2 linked regions of the Homo sapiens genome follow. The main gene of each other region encodes a partner of the protein of the gene in region 2 in a complex. Each region holds a gene or a part of one and is shown on either strand. Other genes may lie near its edges. A codon is read from its position in the direction of its gene.

Region 1 (10,403 bases), on a different chromosome or scaffold from region 2:
GCTACTAAGAAGGCTGAGGCAGGAGAATTGCTTGAACCCGGGAGGCGAAGGTTGCAGTGAGCCAAGATCGCACCACTGCACACCAGCCTGGGTGACACAGCGAGACTCCATCTCAAAAAAAAAAAAAAAAAAAAAAAAAAAGAGGTGAGGGGACCTGGTAGGTTTCCAGGGATGTGGAGCAAAGCAGAGATGGGTTTTCAGTTTTCCAGGGCTGGTGGAGATACTTCTGGAGGACACTTTCTTCTTCTTTTTTTTTTTTTTGAGACAGTCCCACTCTGTTGCCTAGGCTGGAGTGCAGTGGCACATCTCGGCTCACTGCAACCTCTGCCTCCTGGGCTCAAGCTATTTTCCTGTCTCAGCCTCCTGAGTAGCTGGCATTACAGGTGCCCACCACCACACCCAGCTAATTTTTTCATTTTTAGTAGAGACAGGGCTTTACCATGTTGGTTAGCCTGGTCTCGAACTCCTGACCTCAGGTGATCCGCCTGCCTCAGCCTCCCAAAGTGCTGGGATTATAGGCATGAGCCACCGTGCCCAGCCTGGAGGGTACTTTCATACCAGCTGCTGACAGACAAGGGCCCCCGGATTCACTGTACGGCAGCACCCTAGGACACCTTGGAAAGTCTGTCCTGCAGCAAGATGGTGCCTGGGTGGGCTGCTAGGGAGCCTGCAGCTGCTTAACTGGGGGGCATCGTGAACGGCAAGCTAACGGTACTGGATGTGCCTTCGCACAACCTGGCGAGGGCCTGTGAGGCACCAAGAGAAGCCGTCGTGGTAGACGGGCAAGGGCCCTGAAGCTCACACCACGCATCCCGACAGACTCAGCGGTGCCTGTCTGAGGCACTTGAAGCTGGAAGACACAGCTCTGGGAGGCTCTCGAGCTCTCATGCCTTGCTATGTAGAAATTCTTGGCTGGGAGCAGTGGCTCACGACTGTATCCCAACACTTTGGGAGGCCGAGGCAGGATGATCGCTTGAGACCAGGAGTTTGAGACCAGCCTGGGCAACATAGTGAGACCCCATCTCTACCAAAGATAACAAAGTTAGCCAGGTGTGGTTCATGCACCTGTGGACCCAGCTACTCGGGAAGCTGAATGGGGAGGGTCACTTGAGCCCAGGAGGTCAAGGCTGCAGTGAGCTGCCACTGCACTCCAGCCTGGACGACAGAGCAGGACTCTGTCTCTAAAAAACAAAACAAAAAAAGGCCGGGTATGGTGGCTCACGCCTGTAATCCTAGCATTTTGGGAGGCCGAGGCAGACGGATCACTTGAGGTCAAGGAGTTCGTGATCAGCCTGGCCAAAATGGTGAAATCCTGTCTCTACTAAAACTACAAAAATTAGCTGGGCGTGGTGGCAGGTGCCTGTAGTCCCAGATACTCGGGAGGCTGAGGCAGGAGAATCGCTTGAACCTGGGAGGTGGAGACTGCAGTTAGCTGAGTTCGAACCATTGCACTCCAGCCTGGGTGACAGAGCAAGACTCTGTCTCGAAAAATAATAATAAAATAAAATAAAAATAAATAAAATTAATTTTTTAAAAAAAAGACATTCTCATTAGTCATTCACATTCTCATTAGTTATTCATTCATTTGTAGGCTGGGTCGCTGGAGGTGCAGGATGTGCGGTCTCATTTGGTCCTCACGACAACCCCACGGCGCAGCTACGACTCCTGTCTCCGTCCCAGGAAGAGACGGGGGCCACGGGGCAGCTACGACTCCTGTCTCCGTCCCAGGAAGAGACGGAGGCCACGGCGCAGCTGCGACTCCTGTCTCCGTCCCAGGAAGAGATGGAGGCTTGCGGCCGTGGGCAAGCTCAGACAGCTGGTCAGAGCTGGGAGCCCGTGCCAGTCATCTTATTCCAAAAAACCTCAACTCCTTAGCCCCAGCATCACTCCGGGCGAATTTTTCAAAGGGGGCTACAGTCGGGGGTAAAAAACATGCAGTTCTAGTGAGGACACAGGGTCGGGGCAGGCCGCTGGGACTTGGGATGGTGATGGCTACAAATGCCCCACCTGGCTGCGGGAGGAAAAGCCTGCCCACCTCTCCACGGGACACTCAGGTGGGAGGCCCCAGGCTCACCTGAAGATACTGGAAGCAGTTTTCCTGGGCTGCGAAGGTTCCTGCCAGGCGCAGTGAGAAGGAGAGGACCCCAGAACTCAGGTCCTGGACTTTCAGCACATGGGACAGCAGCTCCACCAGGCAGGGGTGCTCCTGCAGCAGCACGACACTGGACTCTGTGGGGATGGCCCAGCCCAGGGGTCACCAGGGGTACGGCACCAGGTGTCCCCCTGGATGACCGCTCTTCTCCTAGCAATTCCCAGACCCTTTTCTTGCAGGGTGTTAGATTTAGGGATCCAACTGGGAAAAAAATATCTGCAACAAATACGGCAAATGACTCATAATTTTAATTCAGTAAGGGCTAGAAAGCCAACACCTTAACAACAGGTGAAAGGCGGAACACTGTCACCTTTCACAACAGGTGAATGGCCAAAAATGCTGAAAAAATGTTCTGTCTCACTGATAGTGAAAAAGAAATGCAAATTAAAGTGAAAGACCAGGCTGGGCGTGGTGGCTCACGCCTGTAATCCCAACACGTTAGGAGGCCAAGGCGGGTGGTCACTTGAGCTCAGGAGTTCGAGACCAGCCTGGCCAACATGGCGAAGTCCCATCTCTACTAAAAATACAAAAAATTAGCCAGGTGTGGTGGCTCATGCCTGTAGTCCCAGCTAATTGGAAGGCTGAGGCAGGAGAATCGCTTGAACCTGGGAGGCAGAGGCTGCAGTGAGCCAAGACCACGTCATTGCACACGGCACACTCCAGCCCTGGGCGACAGAGCGAGACTCCATTCCAAAAAAAAAAAAAAAAAAAAGTGGAAGAGCATTTTCACCTTCCAAATGGGTACTTTTCCTTAGACAGTGCTCCATGCAAGCAGGTACAATGGAACAAACATTCCTCTCCAGAACTGGCATCCTGTATTTCTATAACCAGCTATGCTATCGCTCAAAAGCACCAGTGGGGGAAAAAGACATTTTGAGGCAAAGGTTGGGAGAGTTTCCCAGTGAGAAGCCCCTGTGGAAAGAATGTGGTTCAGTAAGGAGAGTGAGGAGCATGCAGAGGAGGAGAACCAGGCCAGGACCCAAAAAGCACTATGTCCACCTGAATCAGCACTGCAGGCTGGGTGAGGTGCTCATACCTGTAGTCCCAGCACTTTGGGAGGCCAAGGCAGGAGAACAACATAGCAAGACCCTGTCTCTACAAAAAATAAAAAAAAATTAGCCCGGCATGGTGGCACACATCTGCAGTCCCAGCTACTCAGGAGGCTGAGACGGGAGGATTGCTTGAGCCCAGGAGTTCGAGGCTGCAGCAAGCTATCACTGCACCACTGTACTCCAGCCTGGGCGACAGAGGGAGACCCTGTCTCTCTAAAAAAAAAAAAGGCGGGGCGTGGTGGCTCACGCCTGTAATCCCAGCACTTTTGAAGGCCAAGGCAGGCAGATCACGAGGTCAGGAGATTGAGACCATCCTGGCAAACATGGTGAATGAAACCCTGTCTCTACTAAAATATAAAAAATTAGCCAGGCATGGTGGCGGGCGCCTGTGGTCCCAGCTATTTGGGAGGCTGAGGCAGGAGAACTGCTTGAACTCGGGAGGTGGAGGTTGCGGTGAGCCGAGATCGCACCACTGCACTCCAGCCTGGTGACAGGGCAAGACTCTGTCTCAAAAACAAACAAACAAACAAACAAAAAACAATGCCACTGAGTTCAAAATCTAAAAAATCATTGTTGAAGGGTTTTGAAACAAAACAGAATTAAAATACTAACGACAATAATAGAAGGTTGTGATGGCCTGAAGTTCAAGTGCTCTGAGGTCCTTCGGTTGCCTGGATAGAGAATGGAAAGTCTAATTAACTTCAGACTTTTTAAAAAATCCGGTTCTCATGTTAAAAATATAAGGGTAGCCACTGAAGAACACAAATAAGCCTGTGGTCCCAGCATCTTGAGAGGCCGAGGTGGGCAGATTGCCTGAGCCCAGGAGTTTTAAGACCAGCTTGGGCAACACAGGAAGATCCCCTCTCTATAAAAATTCGCTGGGCATGGTGGCGCGCATCTATAGTCCCAGCTACACTGGAAGCTGAGATGGGAAGATCACCTGAGCCCAGGAGGTCAAGGCTGCAGTGAGCCGTGATTACACCACTGTCCTGGACAACAGCACAAGAACTTGTCTAAAAAGAAGAACATAAATAGAATGTATAACTTCAAAACCAGAAGAGGAAAGATTTAAAAGAAAAAAAAAAGCTTTATCAATCTGATGGAGGGCAGAAAAGGAGGATAAAGGCACAAAGGTAAGGCACAGGAAATTAAAAAATACAAAAGAATTCAAATCTAACAGTCGCCTCAACAAATTAAAGAGATCAAACTTATCTGTTAAAAGAAAGAGTTGCTGAGATTAAATTAAACACTAAAAACAAGCAATGTGGTGTTTCTAAAAGCAATAAAATGCAACGACAGGAAAGGCTGGGAGCAGGAGAGAAAAGACACAGTAGGCAAATTCTAACTTTAAAGAAGCTGATGTAGCAACAGAAATAGCAAACAAAATGGGCTGTAAAGCAAAAAGCAGTATTCATGCAGAAGTAAGTTAACTGATCACGGAGATAAATTCCAGAAAGACACAACATTCCTACATCTATGTATACCTAACCTCACTTCAAAACGTGTAAAGCAGCCTGGGCAACGTGGTGAAACCCCGTCTCCGCAAAAAAATACAAAAAATTAGCTGGGTGTGGTGGTGTGTCCCTGTAGTCCCAGCCATCCAGGAGGCTGGGGTGGGAGGATCACTTGAGCCCAGGAAGTTGAGGCTACAGTGAGCCGTGATCACACCACTGCACTCTAGCCTGAGTGACAGAGTGAGACCCTGTCTCCAAAAAAAAAAGAAAAAAAAAATGCCAGGCACAGTGCCTCACACCTGTAATTGCAGCGATTTGAGAGGCCAAGGCGGGCAGACTGCTTGAGCCCAGGAGTTTGAGACCAGCCTGGGCTACATAGTGAAACCCCGTCACTACAAAAAATACAAAAACTTAGCCGGGCGTGGTGGCGGGCTCCTGTGGTCCCAGCTATTAGGGAGGCTGAGGTGAGAGAATCATCTGAGCCCAAGAAGTCGAGGCTGCAGTGAACCGAGATCATGCCACTGCACTCCAGCCTGGGCAATAGAGCAAGACTCCATCTCAAAAAAAAAAAAACAAAAAAAAAAAAAGAAAGAAAAGAAAAAGAAAAAAATAATATGTAAAGCGAAAAAAAAAAAAAGGATGCATCTCAAAGAAAAATCATGAATCCATGATCTTGGTGTAAGCTTTTTACACACCTCTCAGAAACAAGCAAACAAATTAGCAAGAACATAGCAGGTCTGAACTAATGAACGAGTGTGGAAACTACACTCTTTCCATCAAGTACAATGCAGGAGAAATGACAGAGGCTGGGAGGGAGGAGGAAACAGGGACTCACTGTGAACCCAGACTCGGTTTCTTTAGGGGGAACAAAATTAGATTGTGCTGATGATTTCAGAGCCCTGTAAATTTACTAAGAACTGTTGAATTGGTACCATTTATTTATTTATTTTGTCCATTTCTCATGTCAGACGGGTCACGTACCGACATCATACCAGGGTTCCATGGTGCCACATCTCACACATGCGCCTGAACACTCAATTATCATGCTTAGGTTGGGTGCAGTGGCTCTCCACTGTAACCCCAGCACTTTGGGAGGCCAAGGTGGAGGGATCACCTGAGGTCAGGAGTTCGAGACCAGCCTGGCCAACATGATGAAATCCCACCTCTACTAAAAATACAAAAATTGGCCGGGCATGGTGGCATGCACCTTTAATCGCAGGTACTCAGGAGGCTGAGGCAGGAGAATCGTTTGAAACCCAGGAGGCGGAGGTTGCAGTGAGCCAAGATTGTGCCATTGCACCCCAGCCTGGGCAACAGAGCAAGACTTGGTCTCAAAAAAAAAAAAATCTATATCTATATATATATCTATATATAGATATATATATATCTCATGCTTACAAACTGTAAAAGGATCTGGTACACCTTAAATGGGAGAATGGCATGGTATGCAAATTATATCTCAATAAAGCTACTGAAAAATACTTCTTAAAATTTAAATACAGGCCAGGCATGGTGGCTCGCTCCTGTAATCCCAGCACTTTGGGAAGCCCAGGCGGGAAGACTGCTTGAGCCCAGGAGTTCCAAGCTGGCCTGGACAAGATGGTGAGACCTCATCTCTATGGGAAAAAAAAAAATAGCTGGGCCTGGTACACACCTTGATCCCAGGAACTCAAGAGAATGAGGCAGGCGGACTGCCCAGGAGGTCAAGGCTGCAGTGAGCCGTGTTCACGCCATTGCACTCCATCCTGGGTGACGCGCAAAAACCCTGGCTCAAAAAAAAAAAAAAAGAAAAAGAAAAACTGACTACTACAAACTAGGCCACAGTTGAAGACCTTCAAATACCAAAACATCAAAATCATATAGTGAAATCTCTAGAACATTGAGAAAACTCGCCTGGGTCCTATGTCTCAATAAAAGTCTCAACAGCTATAAAGATTCAAAACATATGTTATGTTTTCTAACCTCCACAAAGTAAATTAAAAATCAATAATAAAAAGACTGGAAAAATCCATATTTTGAAACTAAAGGATACTCTTTTAAGTAACTTGTGGGTGAAAAAAAAATTATAATGAAAAGCATAAAATACTCAGAACTAAATTAAAACCAAAGTACTGCAATGTAAAACGTGTAAGATGTAGCTAAAGTCATACTTTTAGAGAAATGCATAGTCTTAAATATATATATATATATATATATATATTTTTTTTTTTTTTTTTTTTTTTTTTTTGAGACAAGAGTCTCACTCCATTGCCCTGGCTGGAGTGCAATGGCGTTATCTCGGCTCACTGCAACCTCTGCCTCCCAGGTTCAAGTGATTCTCCTGCTTCAGCCTCCCGAGTAGCTGGGATTACAGGCATGGACCACCATGTCAGGCTAATTCTTGTATTTTTAGTAGAGACGGGGTTTCACCATGTTAGCCAGGCTGGTCTCCAACTCCTGACCTCAAGTGATCTGCCTGCCTCAGCCTCCCAAAGTGCTGGGATTATAGGCATGAACCACCGTGCCTGGCCTTAAATATATATATTAGAAAACAAGGAAGACCTAGATATTTAGCTCAAAGAGGGTAAAAGGCACTTTGGGAAGCAGAGGCAGGTGACTGCCTGAGCCCAGGAGATCGAAAACAGCTTGGGCAATACGGTGAGACCCCATCCTTAAAAAAAAAAATACAATATAATTTAAAAATAAAAAGAATAAAAGAACACGGTAAACCAAAAAAAGGAAGTAAAGAATAGCAGAAATTAACAACATGCAGTCTATCCCAATGCAATTATCAACCATGAGAATAAACATTTACATGCGAGAATATTTATGTAAAAGGAAAGCCATTATGACACTATTTTTTTTTTTTTGAGACGGAATCTCGCTCTGTCGCCCAGGCTGCAGTGCAGTGGCGTGATCTCGGCTCACTGCAAGCTCTGCCTCCTGTGTTCACGCCATTCTCCTGCCCAGCCTCCCAAGTAACTGGGACTACAGGCGCCCACCACCACGTCTGGCTATTTTTTTTTTTTTTGTATTTTTAGTAGAGACGGGGTTTCACCATGTTAGCCAGGAGGGTCTTGATCTCCAGACCTCGTGATCTGCCTGCCTCGGTCTCCCAAAGTGCTGGGATTACAGGCTTGAGCCACCGCGCTCGACTGACACTATTTTTTTGAGACAGAGTCCATTCTGTCGCTGGAGTGCAGTGGCACGATCTGGGCTCACTGCAACCTCCGCTTCCTGGGTTCAAGCGATCCTCCCCCTCAGTCTCCCAAGTAGCTGGGATTACGGCGCATGCCACCATGCCCGGCTAATTTTTTTATTTTTAGTAGAGACGAGGTCTCACCATGTTGGCCAGGCTGGTTTCGAACTCCTGACTTCAAGTGACCTACCCGCCTTGGCCTCCCAAAGTGATGGGATTACAAGCATGAGTCACCGCGCCTGACCTATGACACTACTTAAAATGATGAAAAATGAGAAATATAAACATCTGACAGTGGAGTGATTCAATTAATTATGGTCTATTCCTACAGCAAATAACATGTAGTCAATAACATTAACATATTATGTGGAGAAAACACTCACTATGATAGCAAGAGAGAAAGCAAGACACCAAAATTGTGTTTACAGTATGACCTCATTTTTTTTTCCCCAGAAAAATACAGCTTTATGTGTTATGAAAAGGCTGGGAGTAAATTAAAACGTTGATGGTTTAATTTTCCTCTTTACTCTTTTGTTCATGTTTTAAAGAACATGTATTACTTTGTTTTTTTTTTTTGAGACAGGGTCTCACTCTATCACCCAGGTCAGGGTGCAGTGGCACAATCATAGCTCACTGCAACCTCTACCTCCCGGACTCAAAGGATCCTCCCATCTCAGCCTCCAGAGTAGCTGGGACTACAGGTGCGCCACCAGGCACAGCTAATTTTTGTTTTTTTTTTTTTTAGAGATGACGTCTCGCTATGTTGGACCAGGCTGGTCTTGAACTCCTGGACTTAAGCAATCCGCTCGCCTCAGCCTCCCAAAGTGCTGGGATTACAGGTATGAGCCACTGCATCCGGCCCCTACTTTCATAATCAGAAAGAAAACAAATCTGATGTCTTAAACACACTAAATACAACGAGAACAACAATAAAACAAGTTTGTTCACGCCTTCTGTAGAACTGAACCTTGGGGTGCCCTGATCGTGGCTCAACTGGCTGAATTTCAGGCTCTAACTCTCCAGATCATTCTCTCGGGCTTCATCTTAACTTGCCCTCAGTCTGCCACAGATAATCCTTAGGAAGTGAAGGAAAGACATCTGATTGGCAGTTTCTGCCCTTCCTCCAGGACAGGGGAGTCCCCATCTGGCCCCTGCTCCCTGTCCCAGCCTCTGCGTCTGGTCTCTGGATAGGCAGTAAACAGCAGCACCACCTCCTTACCTCCTTCAGTGACCGTTTTAAACCAGTCCAGGAGCTTCTCCAAACAGGTGTCATCTGCCACCGGCTGCCTGGGATCTACCAGAACAGCACAGAGAGCCGGGAGCAGCTGGGCGCATTCTGGGTCCATGGTGAGGCCGCAGGCCCTGCAAAGGCAATGTGAGAGCCAAACCTCAATGCCCACTCCAGACCCAGCTCGCTCTAGTCACAGCAGCCCACCATGCCTGCTCAGGCCTGGGAAGGGGCCCCAGAACTTTCATCTCAGACCAGGAGAACCATGATCCCCAGACCAGAGGTCTGTACTGCAGGGATGGATGCAAAGCTTTGGTCTAGGTGGGGCCCTGAGCGCTGGTGGCGGGGCTGAAAGGGGCAGATGAGGGTCTAGCTGAAACCACAAGGCCTCCGGAACTCAAAGTCTGTCACCCTTGGTCTTTGGTGCAGTCGGGGCAACAGCGTGGTGCTGGCCCAGGCTGCAGGTGGGCCAGAGTCAGGGGCATCTTTGAGTTCCGGGGTCAGCCATGTGTGCAAGGGGATGTCTACCCATGCCCCAGGGCCAGCCTGGGCTGGAAAGTTTCTGTCCCTCCCAGCGTCAAGTGGTGGCTGCATTTGACGTCCTGAAGCCAGCAGGGGGGTGCGGAGGGGAAGGGGCGCCTGTCCGTGTGTCTGTCCCTCTCAGGGTCAGTGGTGGCTGCATTTGCTGTTCTGCAGCCAGTAGGAGGGTGAGGAGGGGAAGGGGCACCTGTCCGTGTGTCTGTCCCTCCCAGGATTAGTGGTGGCTGCATCTGAAGCCGGCGGGGGGGAGAGGGGGGCGGCGGGGTGCGGAAAGGAAGGGGCGCCTGTCTCTCCCAGGACCAGGTGTGCATCCGTGCGTCCAGCCTCGGGGGTGGGCGGGGTGGTCAGCGGCTCTGTCTAACCGGGGCACCGTCTGCCAATGCCCGGGAAGGCTGCGTCCCGGGAAGAGGAACCCTCCCCACACTTTGAAGTCAGTTTTGGCCGCGAGCGCCAGGCCCGAGAGTCCAGAAGGGGCGCCAGAGCAGGCGGCCACAGTCGGGCTGGGAAGCGAGCCCAGGTCGCGCACGCCCCGGGCTGGGCTGCTCCCTGGCCCGCCCGCCCCCCTCGGCCGGGTCTTGGCCTCCCCGCGCCCCACTACCACGACCTCGACCCCCGAAGGCCCACGCGCCTCACCGCTCGGTTGCGTCCTCCGCCGCAACCACCCCTCGCCCAAGGCTCCGCCTCCGGACAGTGCCACCTGCCAGGCCCGGAGGAGGCGGAGGACGGAGACGGCTGGCGTGGGGAACTGAGACTGCACCCCTGGAGGCCGCTCTGGAAGCCTCGAGGGCCCAGACTTGAA
Region 2 (11,256 bases):
TTGATCATCTGGGAGGTGAAGAAGTTGGCCTCGCCCTTCTTGTCTACGGCGATCTTGCGGTAGTCCTCCAGCAAGATGGGGCAGATGGCCTGGGTGGGGTGAGTCATGTAGATGGGCCCGTCGTAGCCCACCATCTCGCTGAAGTAGGGGAGTGCCCCGCAGTGGTCCAGGTGGAAGTGGCTAGGGGGACGCAGCACAGGTCAGCCTGGGCCCACCCTGCCCCAGCCTTCACCCCCGCTCTGGGCTTGTGGGTCACTGGCCCCTTCATTCGCCTGCTGTGCGCCAGGCCTCATCCCGAGTACCGAAGAGTCAGTAATGAGCAAACACAAAACTGTCTCCCTGGAACTTTCAGTCTCAAAGTCTAGCAAGGCAATAAGCAAACGGGAAATTGAACACGTCGGTGACGGCGACATGCTCGCGAGACAATGCAAAGCTGCTGAGGGAACCGCGCATAGGGGAGCCGCTGGCTTTTCAGGCAGTCAGGACAGGCTGAGTGGAGCTGCAGGTGAAGGTGGCACAGACCTGAGGGCAAGGGCAGCGCCTGGCAAGCCCCAGGAAGGCACTGGGGACCCCACCGTGTCTGAGAAGAAACCACAACCACGAGGGGCTCAGGGGCAGCTGAGGACACTGCCTCCGGAGAGGAGAAGGGGCTTCTCCAGGCTTCACGGGCCTGGCTGCTGGGGAGGACAGGGCAGGGAAGGGCAGGGGGCCAGCAGGAGTGCTGTGGCCGTCCAGACGAGGCCACCCAGACCAGCGGGTCATGAGCTGCTGAACCCTAAAGGCTGGGGTCAGGGCAGACTCGGGACTCTGGAATCGCCAACAAGACAGTGGGGTTTAAAGATCCTGAGACAGTGAAGGCATCAGAGAGGGTGAAGCCTGGAGGGCCGGGTTCAGAAAGTAGGGTTCAGAGGGCAGGGCCGGAAGAACAGACAGAGACCAGGCCATGTGTGTGACCAGTAAGGCAGGCAGGGAGCAGATCCTGGGGCCTAGAAGCCCCCTGAGGATCAAGGATGGCACAGGCCCCTTGCCAAACGCTGCCGAGACCAAGCAAGGTGGCCCAAGCCCCACAGGCACAGACATGGGACCCTCAAGGCCCCCAACAGGAACCCACCTAATGATCACACAGTCCAGGAAGTCTGTTAGGCGGCCGTTCTGGGTGATGTAGGAGAAGTCAGGGAAGCGTCGCTAGGAAGGATGTGGGGGTTTCAGGTTGCACAGTGGTCTCCAGGCAGCATCTGGGGCCACCCATGCCCCAGGGAGGGGCCCCCAGGAAGGGGGGTTCTATGTGCAGACTCAGGCTGGGCACTCCCATCCCGCAGGTGGCACCAGGACCCCTGGCTGCTCACAGCATCCGGAGGGGCCGAGGTTACCCCCAACCTCACTGACAGATGTGAGCTGGAAGCTGAGCCCAGGGTCTCACGGAGTCCAGCCTACAGGACCCCGGGGCTGGGGCTCAGCGCCAGCACAGGGGGACCCCACCATGCAGGGGCTCACCTCGGCCAGGCCCACCCATCCCTGCTCCCCACAGGGTGCAGCCATCCAAGCACAACCACTGCTGCCCACCACCCCACTGTCCCGGCTCTGAGGCCCAGGGTCCAGCTGTGGATGGCCGGCTCTCCCAGCCTCTGGGCCTCCTGCCCAAGGGACTCACGTCGTCATTGAAGCCCATGTGCATTCCACAGTCCAGCATGACATTCTTGCCCGCAATGGAGACCAGGATGCAGCTTCGGCCCACGTCCTGGCCGGCCCCTACTCGAGGGAGGGCAGATGAGTCACTGCTGCGCCCCCCGCCCCCTGTGCTGCCTCCCCAAGCTCTGCAGGACCCCAGTGCACTGAGGAAACCGGACCAAGTCTGCTGTGTGGACAGACACATGGGCCAAGAAGCAGGGCCACCCCTACTCACAGGAAGGGGGACACAGGGGACCATGCCCCACACCATCATGTCCAGGGTGGAGGCTGGCAGCCCACACGCCCTCCCCCGCCAGCTTCCCCTGGCCTCTTAAGGTGGCCACGGCCTGCTGGCTAAGTAGTGGGCACTGTGCTGTGGCCCTCAGCCTCCAACAGAGACAACGGCTGGTCTGTGGGGCCAACACCTCGGTCAGAGTCACTCCTGGGCTGTGGCTGGACCCCCAGCAGAGCTGCAAACCAATGAGGCCACCTTCTCCAGGATCTTTCCCCAGGCAGGCAAGGCAGTAAGTGACTAAGTGCTGGCACTGGGTGTTCTCTGGTGGTGCGGCTGTGGAGGGGCGCCACACAGCCTCAGCCATGCCATAGCGAACACGGTGCCAGTGGTCCAGCAGTGGCCAGCGTGGCAACACGAGCCTCACACCACTGCACACCATGCAGCCCCCAACACAGACCCTCATCTGCAGCCCTCCCACACTCCTGACAGCCAAGCAGCCCTGCCCAGCTGCTCCAGCCAGAGGCCTTGGCCAGCCAAGGCACACTCAGCCCCCTCATGTGGCCTGGGGGCCCGAGAGGAAAGGGTCACGGCCCCTGCACAGACTGTGCCTGGGCAGGAGTCTGATGGCAGTGAACAGTTTTCCCCTTGAATCCCACCCACCTCCCCCTGCCAGCCACTCGAAGTGTCCAAAGCCAGCACCACACATCAGGATGACGGGGCCACAGCCGAGGGGCTGCCTGCCACAGAGAGGGGATCTCAGGTTCTCTTCCAGGCCTGTTCCTGCCCCCGCTGGGTGTGAGCTCTCTGAGAGCAGGGTCTCAGCTGTCTCCTCCCTCTGCATCTCCTACCCCAAGCCACGCCAGGCTCACAGAGGCCCTCTGGCACCTGTGGGAAGGGAGGGCCGCCCCTCTTCATGCCCAGGGACCTAAGGCCACAGAGGCACTTGTGGCACACGGCCCCGAGGCATGGGGCCCGGGCTGGTTTTCTGAATTCCAAAGCCCAGTCCTGAAGTACTGGCAGTCCCGCCTCCCGACAGGACCCACAGTGATCCCAGGAAGGAAAGTGGAAAGGTGCGGGAATAGAGCCTGGAGATACACGAGGGGACAGGGCTCAGAAGACAGGAGGAGATATCCCTGTCAGCAAGGAGACAGACGGCAGACAAACAAGACACCCAAAGCACGCCAGACGAAGGTTACTATGACAGAAAAGAGCAAGGTGAGAGAATGAGGAAGCCTCAAAACTTCCAGAACCATGACAGGAGACTGCTCCGAGAAGCCAACTTTTGAGCAGGGGAGGGGAGGGGTAGGGTGGGGGAGGGGGAGGGACGGGGTGGGGAAGGGATGGTCCAGGGGAGGAGAAGAAGCGGGGCGGGCGGAGGGAGGACAGGCAGCAGGGAGGGACAGGCAGGGGGGAGGGAAGGGACCAGCAGGGGGAGGGACGGGCAGGGTGGGTGGGGGGACCGGCGGTGGGGAGGGATGGGCAGGGTGGGTAGGGGGACCGGCGGCGGGGGGGGTAGCCACACACAGGCCAAGGCGTGGGAGTGACCCCAAGGACACAGCAGTGGTCCAGTGAGCGCGGACACGGAGCCCGAGGCAGTCCCTGGTGCAGGGAAGCGGTGAAACAGGACTTCGGCTTTGATGATACCTTGGCTGAGGTGACCTTGAGAATATACCCAGGTACAGATTGCGGGTAATTGAAGCCACATGAAAGATCAGAAAGATCAGATGTCCAGAGAGTGGGCAGAACAGGCAGCCAAGAGGCCAAATGGGAAAGGGGCAGGCTGGGAGGACCCCACGGAGGACCCAGAGAGCAGGGGAGGGCAGTGGGGCCCATGCAAACAGCTGCAAAATGCCATGGGGTGTGCACAGGCCAGGGGTGTTCACAGCACAGTGTCCACACCGGGGCGGGGGGCACCCTCCGAGGAAGCGCTCACGCCATGGGGGAGGACATGGAATCCCGTCCTGGTGTCTGTGCTGGAAGGTGCCCTCGACCCCCTGCCCGGTGGAAGGACCAGGTTCCAGGACAGCACAGGGCAGGCACCTGTGGAAAACGCTAAGGACATCAGGATGACTGGCCACCAACACCATGTCCCTCCAGCTGTTTCTGAGACCCTGGATTTTGACTAATTTTTTCCTTCTTCACATCGTTCTATACTGTTACGACTTTGACTTTCTTTTGAGACATGGTTTTGCTGTCACCCAGGCTGGAGTGCAGTGGCACAATCATGGCTCACTGCAGCCTCAACCTCCTGGGCTCAAGCAATCCTCACAACTCAGCCTCCCAAGTAGCTTGAACCACAGGCACACACCACCACGCCCTGCCAATTTTAGCATTTTTTTTTTTTGGAGTGATGGGGTCTTGCCATGTTGGCTAGGTTGGTCTTGAACTCCTGGGCTCAAGCGATCCTCCCACCTCTGCCTTCCAAAGTGCTGTGATTGCAGGCGTGAGCCACAGTGCCCAGACTGTCAGGACTTTTAGGAGTACATATTTGCGTTTTTTGCTATTTTTTTCAGTGTTGCAGAAATCAGGTAGAACAAGAGCTAAAGTGAGAGTTGATTGTAACTCGGGCGTGAGCACACAGAGTGGTGGACAGAAAGCAAGACGTGAGGAGGCAGAAGCGGGGCTGGGGGGCTGAGGGGCTTGCGGGGTTAAGGGGCTTGGGGGCTGGGGGACTGGGGGGCTGAGGGGCTGGGGGGCTGAGGGTCTGGGGGTCTGCTGGGCTGAGGGGCTGGGGGACTGAGGGGCTGGGGGACTGAGGGTCTGCTGGGCTGAGGGTCTGGGGGACTGGAGCGCTGGGGGGCTGGGGGGCTGAGGGACTGAGGGGCTGAGGGGCTGGGAGGCTGAGAGGCTGGGGAGCTGGGGGGCTGAGGGTCTGCGGGGCTGAGGGGCTGGGGGGCTGGGGGGCTGAGGGGCTGGGGGGCTGAGGGGCTGGGAGGCTGAGAGGCTGGGGAGCTGGGGGGCTGAGGGTCTGCGGGGCTGAGGGGCTAAGGGACTGAAGGGCTGGTAGGGCTGGAGGCGGCAGCGCGCGGCACGGGGAGGTCAAGGCACCGACGAAAGCGCACAGCGAGCGCGAAGGCCCCGCGGCCCCATCTGCGACGTCCCCTCACGGCCGCCTGAACCTCGGGGCTCGCGTTCTCGCGTCACTGCCGGAGGCCCGGGGTGCAGGGACTAGGCCGCCTCTCGGCTCCCACCAGGGCCCGCGCGGGGAGGAGACCGGAGGACGCCCGCGGCGCGCACCTGGCTCCACGAGAAACGGGAGGGAGCGGGGCGCCCAGCCCGCCCGGAGCCGCATACGGAGCCCACCCCACAGCCCTCCCGGCGGCTCCCACTCACCCAAGGGCGTGACTCTGATCTCAGGCATCGTCTCCGCCGCGCTCCCGGACCCGCGAGGCCCGCCTGCGGTGATGCACTGCGCAGGCGCAACCACCTCGCTGCAACTTCCGGTGCGCTAGCCGGAAACGCGGGTCGGGGCGCCGGGCCTCCTGATTGGGCAGCATCCAACCAATCAGGGCGGCGGGCGAGGGCGGGGCGAGGGCGGGGCGGTGGGCGGGGACGGGGCCCGCACGGCGGCTACGGCCTAGGTGAGCGGCTCGGACTCGGCGGCCGCACCTGCCCAACCCAACCCGCACGGTCCGGAAGTCGCCGAGGGGCCGGGAGCGGGAGGGGACGTCGTCCTAGAGGGCCGGAGCGGGCGGGCGGCCGAGGACCCGGCTCCCGCGCAGGACGGAGCCGTGGCTCAGGTCGGCCCCTCCCCAACACCACCCCGGGCCTCCGCCCCTTCCTGGGCCTCTCGGTGGAGCAGGGACCCGAACCGGTGCCCATCCAGTCCGGTGCCATCTGAAGCCCCCTTCCCAGGTGAGACTCGTAGCGCTCGCTCGACAGGGTCTGGTCCCACCCACAAGGCCTGGGGCGCCGTGGGGCCCCGTCTCCTGCTGGCCCCCCAGCCTGCTGTCAGCCCCCGTGCTCTGTGCTCAGGCCGCCCTCGCGCCCGGCCCTGACCTTGGGCCGTTGGGCTGCCCTGGGAAAGGCCTGGAGGTGTCCTGGGTCACCTTCCTGGGCTGGCAAGCTGCCTGCCTCCTGCACAGCCACTGCCCTTCCTGTTGTTACCGAGCCACCAGCCACAGCTCTGAGAAGCTCCTGGCAGCTTCTGTTTGCCACTGGCTCGAATCTGGGCAGGAAGGCAAGGCCCGCAGAATATCTGGTGACCAAGAAGGAAACCCCAGAGCCTCAGAGACCATCTTCTCAGTGGACAAAATTAAGGCCCGAGGAGGGGAGGGGCGTGCTGGAAGTCTATGGGACTGCATCTTTCTGAGGCCCAGGAGCAGCCATCCCCCACACCTGAAGCCCGGTGAGCTCACATCTGGGGCCTCCGCCTGGTGCCAAGCATGCAACCCAACCTGTGGGGCCTGCAACGCCAGGCTTCAGCACCCTGCAGGCACCAGTGCTCCAGCAGCCTGGGCCACGGGCTGGGCAGGGCTTGCAGCCCATGATCCCTAGTGATGAAGGGCCCAGTCCTAGGGTGCTGAGCAACCTGCCCACCTGCTCCTGGCCAGGAGCTCTCACCACGGCTGGGTGCCCTTCCCCCTCCCCCACCGATGGAGTCCCTGCAGCCAGGGAGGCCAGGACAGGGCTCCCAGCACCAACCGGCCTAGGAACCCCCAGGCCCTCTTCCTGGTCGAGGTGGAATGCAGCTGACTCTCAGGTTCCCCAGAGCAGGTGCGGGCCCGTGGGGCACCCGGGGAGACAGGGCAAGGGTGCTTGGCAACACTCACACAAAGCATGGGTGCCTGGATGTCTGTGGATCTGTGGAGTGACTATGTGAATGCCAGCAGAATCCAAAGCAGGGCCTGGGCCACTCGTGGAAGGCTCCCTAGGGCTAGTACAAGAGCCTCGTGGCAATCTTCTGAGTGGTAAAACCCATCTGTGTGGGACATGGAGTTTCAGCAACAGGAGTGAAAACACGTGTCCATCCATCCAGCAAGTGCCAGCCCTACAGCCTCTTTTCTGCTTTTGGGGATGTAGCAGTGAGGAAGATGGGGCAGCCTGCCCGGCAGCATCCCCCCACCCCCGGCCCCACCTGTCTCTGCTTTCTGCTGTGTCTGTTTTCTTGTCTAGGACTTCAGAACTTCCTGTCTTTGTTGTCATCTGACCCCACCCCAGATGGCTGCTCGCACTCCCCATGCACCCAGATAGATGGCTAGGATGGTGCTTGGCTCTCGGCAGGGGCTTAGTATTTCTCCAGCTGGTAAAAGCAGATACAGCATCTAGAGAGAGAAACAAAAACAAGAAAGCACCAGCAGAGACACCTGCTGCAGACAGCGGGGCCTAGTGGTCTGATAAAGCCAGAGGGGGCCACTCTCGGGGTCAGGGACTGACACGGAGTCAGTGGCCTGATCCACAGGAGGGGCTGTGCCAAGGTCCCTGAATGCGCAATCCTGATGAAGGGTGGGTCAGGGTGGTGTGCCTGAGAGCCTGCGGCTTGGCTGGGAGCAGAGCCAGGCAGCTCCTGGGAGGAAGCTCCATGAGGGGCATGAGTGTTCAGTGAGCGGCAATGGGATCGCAGCTATTTTGTTCCCCTCCACACACAGAAAATGAGCCACAGAGCAAGCTGACCCCAGCGACACAGCCCCCCAGCCCTACTGTATTTCCGTTCCTATCAAAAAATGGATGACTCGGAGACAGGTTTCAATCTGAAAGTCGTCCTGGTCAGTTTCAAGCAGTGTCTCGATGAGAAGGAAGAGGTCTTGCTGGACCCCTACATTGCCAGCTGGAAGGGCCTGGTCAGGTGCGTGTGCCAGGGCTGCCTCCTGAGGTGGGCGCTCCCCTGGCCCGAGTCCCATATGTGGCATCTGCCTCCCGACTGCCTGTCCCCACCAGCTTTGCTGCCCGTTTCCAGATGGGTGTGAGCCCCCGCAGGCTGGGCAGCGTCCCCTGCACCCCAGGCGGGCTGCCCCAGGCCTGGGCGAGGACTCGAGCCCCGCTCCCTTCCACAGGTTTCTGAACAGCCTGGGCACCATCTTCTCATTCATCTCCAAGGACGTGGTCTCCAAGCTGCGGATCATGGAGCGCCTCAGGGGCGGCCCGCAGAGCGAGCACTACCGCAGCCTGCAGGCCATGGTGGCCCACGAGCTGAGCAACCGGCTGGTGGACCTGGAGCGCCGCTCCCACCACCCGGAGTCTGGCTGCCGGACGGTGCTGCGCCTGCACCGCGCCCTGCACTGGCTGCAGCTGTTCCTGGAGGGCCTGCGTACCAGCCCCGAGGACGCACGCACCTCCGCGCTCTGCGCCGACTCCTACAACGCCTCGCTGGCCGCCTACCACCCCTGGGTCGTGCGCCGCGCCGTCACCGTGGCCTTCTGCACGCTGCCCACACGCGAGGTCTTCCTGGAGGCCATGAACGTGGGGCCCCCGGAGCAGGCCGTGCAGATGCTAGGCGAGGCCCTCCCCTTCATCCAGCGTGTCTACAACGTCTCCCAGAAGCTCTACGCCGAGCACTCCCTGCTGGACCTGCCCTAGGGGCGGGAAGCCAGGGCCGCACCGGCTTTCCTGCTGCAGATCTGGGCTGCGGTGGCCAGGGCCGTGAGTCCCGTGGCAGAGCCTTCTGGGCGCTGCGGGAACAGGAGATCCTCTGTCGCCCCTGTGAGCTGAGCTGGTTAGGAACCACAGACTGTGACAGAGAAGGTGGCGACCAGCCCAGAAGAGGCCCACCCTCTCGGTCCGGAACAAGACGCCTCGGCCACGGCTCCCCCTCGGCCTATTACACGCGTGCGCAGCCAGGCCTCGCCAGGGTGCGGTGCAGAGCAGAGCAGGCAGGGGTGGGGGCCGGGCCTGCAAGAGCCCGAAAGGTCGCCACCCCCTAGCCTGTGGGGTGCATCTGCGAACCAGGGTGAAGTCACAGGTCCCGGGGTGTGGAGGCTCCATCCTTTCTCCTTTCTGCCAGCCGATGTGTCCTCATCTCAGGCCCGTGCCTGGGACCCCGTGTCTGCCCAGGTGGGCAGCCTTGAGCCCAGGGGACTCAGTGCCCTCCATGCCCTGGCTGGCAGAAACCCTCAACAGCAGTCTGGGCACTGTGGGGCTCTCCCCGCCTCTCCTGCCTTGTTTGCCCCTCAGCGTGCCAGGCAGACTGGGGGCAGGACAGCCGGAAGCTGAGACCAAGGCTCCTCACAGAAGGGCCCAGGAAGTCCCCGCCCTTGGGACAGCCTCCTCCGTAGCCCCTGCACGGCACCAGTTCCCCGAGGGACGCAGCAGGCCGCCTCCCGCAGCGGCCGTGGGTCTGCACAGCCCAGCCCAGCCCAAGGCCCCCAGGAGCTGGGACTCTGCTACACCCAGTGAAATGCTGTGTCCCTTCTCCCCCGTGCCCCTTGATGCCCCCTCCCCACAGTGCTCAGGAGACCCGTGGGGCACGGAACAGGAGGGTCTGGACCCTGTGGCCCAGCCAAAGGCTACCAGACAGCCACAACCAGCCCAGCCACCATCCAGTGCCTGGGGCCTGGCCACTGGCTCTTCACAGTGGACCCCAGCACCTCGGGGTGGCAGAGGGACGGCCCCCACGGCCCAGCAGACATGCGAGCTTCCAGAGTGCAATCTATGTGATGTCTTCCAACGTTAATAAATCACACAGCCTCCCAGGAGGGAGACGCTGGGGTGCACTGGGTGCCTGATTTCCTGCAGGGGGACACAGGGGCACCCAGTGAGGGTGGGGAGGGCCCTCACCCCAGGGACACAGCTGAGGTGGGTGCACCTAACTCCAAGGGAGCTGAGGCCCCACTGCCAGGCTCAGGGGGCTGTGTTAGCCCCAGGGCTCAACAAACACCCTGAGAAAAGGCCAGCCTTGGAGGCAGGGCTGCTGTGTGCCCATTCTCCCAGAGAGGTCCCATCACTATGCCTGTTGTACAGGTGAGACAAGAGAGAGACAGAGTCACCCAGAACCAAGAGGCTGGGTTGGGAGGACGGTTGGGAGGGCAGACATCCGCCTCTCCATGCAAAAGAGGAGAGGCCTGCGTGGGATGTGTGCGTGGAGGTGGGGGCCACTCCCAGCCACAACAGTGGCCTGGACAGAAAGGGGATGCAATTCAGCAGAGTCTTCCTGGATGTCACCCCCACCTCAGGGTCTGTGGGAGCTGCATATGGTGCCGGCAAAGGCTGCCGACTGCAGTATGGGCCGGGAGAACTGCCTGGGTCTGCGTGGGCCCCAGGGCAGGGCTCCCTCCGGGTGTTGCCTTCTGTACAAGTGCCATGCTTGTGCCGTTTGCGTGTCCCAAGTGCGAGTGTGCTATTTGCGTGTGCCGCACGTGTGCCGTTTGCATGTGCTGTTTGCATGTACCATGTGCATGTGTGCCATCTGTGCAATGTGCAGGTGCCAGTTGCATGTGCCATGCGTGTTGGCCGTGAGCGTGTGCTGTTTTCGTGTATGTGCCATGCACGTATGTGCTGCGTGTTGGCCGTGCACGTGTGCCACGTGCATGTGTGCCATTTGTGTATGCCGTGTGTGCTGTGAGCGTATGCTGTGCGCATGTGCGTGCCATGTGCTTTGCGTGTACCATGTGTGTGCTGTTTGCATGTGCCATTTGTGTCATGCACGTGCCATTTGCGTGCGATGCGCGTGTGCCACACGTCGTTTGCTTGCGTGCCATGCATGTGTGGCATTTGTGTATGTGCCGTTTCCGTGTGTATTGTGTGTGCCGTGTGTGTGCCATTTGCATGTGCCGTTTTGTGTGTGCCATGCGCGTGTGCCATGCACTTGCCGTGCGTGTGCCATTTGTGTGTACCATGCGCATGTGCCATTCGTGTGCACCGTACACGTGTGCCATTTGCATGTATGCTGTGCACGTGTGGCATGCATGTGTGCCGTTTGCATGCCATGCATGTGTTCCTTGCGTGTGCCGTGCGTGTCCCATGCACGTGTGCCGTGCATGTGCCATTCGCGTGTACCATGCGCATGTGCCGTTTGTGTGTGTGCCGCATTCCTGTGCTCGTGTGCCAGGTTCGCATGTGCGCCATATTCACGTGTGCTCAGCATGTGCCATATGCATGTGCGGTGGTAGTGTGTGTCCCTCACAGGTCCTCCTCACAACACCATGGGGAAGAAGCACCAGCCAGGGCACACCTCCTGGTATCTGCTAGGTCTGCCAGGCCCTAGCTGAAGCTGAGTGCCCCCCAGTTCCCCTGGGAGGGCCTGCGCCTGGAGTCTGCTGTGTCCCCGAGGGCACCCCCAAAGCAACACAGAGGCAGAGGAGTCCCGGCCCTGCACACCTGGTGCTGCTCCAGCTGCCGCTCATTTGCCTGTGGCCCTTCCTCCCTTGTTTGCGTGCCCCCCTGGCAAACAAACTCTACCCCCAGCAGGAGCCACCTGT

Evidence for each region.
Region 1: the proteins of INTS11 (region 2) and BRAT1 are in contact, whole or in part, in a cryo-EM structure (PDB 8UIB), measured with the Homo sapiens proteins. Residues at the interface, in NP_060341.2 of Homo sapiens: Leu9 (codon at 5,240), Val15, Gly16, Lys27, Met35, His36, Met37, Gly38, Phe39, Arg43, Asp47, Tyr50, Thr58, Asp59, Asp62, His70, Leu71, Asp72, His73, Asp87, Gly88, Gln97, Pro101, Ile102, Glu105, Arg108, Lys109, Val112, Asp113, Lys114; in NP_689956.2 of Homo sapiens: Asp25, Thr27, Cys28, Glu30, Lys31, Asp34, Pro117, Ser156, Ser157, Leu158, Phe159, Ser162, Lys358, Ser359, Cys366, Arg367, Arg424, Arg427, Thr465, Lys468, Lys469, Trp514, Glu515, Asp518, Ser519, Glu522, Tyr560, Ser564, Ser604, Glu605.

The regions. Positions count from the first base shown.
Region 1 is NC_000007.14:2,545,250-2,555,652, forward strand, and holds the start of BRAT1 (integrator complex assembly factor BRAT1), read right to left. Parts: upstream 10,276-10,403; 5' UTR 10,238-10,275; exon of another isoform or gene 9,792-10,237; intron 9,199-9,791; 5' UTR 9,183-9,198; coding exon 9,056-9,182; intron 5,717-9,055; exon of another isoform or gene 5,621-5,716; intron 3,876-5,620; exon of another isoform or gene 3,817-3,875; intron 2,230-3,816; coding exon 2,075-2,229; intron 1-2,074. UniProt on the Homo sapiens protein: Component of a multiprotein complex required for the assembly of the RNA endonuclease module of the integrator complex.
Region 2 is NC_000001.11:1,319,345-1,330,600, forward strand, and holds the start of INTS11 (integrator complex subunit 11), read right to left. Parts: upstream 5,317-11,256; 5' UTR 5,265-5,316; coding exon 5,237-5,264; intron 3,944-5,236; coding exon of another isoform or gene 3,833-3,943; exon of another isoform or gene 3,548-3,832; intron 2,641-3,547; coding exon of another isoform or gene 2,564-2,640; intron 1,750-2,563; coding exon 1,652-1,749; intron 1,186-1,651; coding exon 1,112-1,185; intron 181-1,111; coding exon 1-180. Other genes in the region: CPTP (ceramide-1-phosphate transfer protein), read left to right, coding at 7,567-7,688, 7,897-8,419.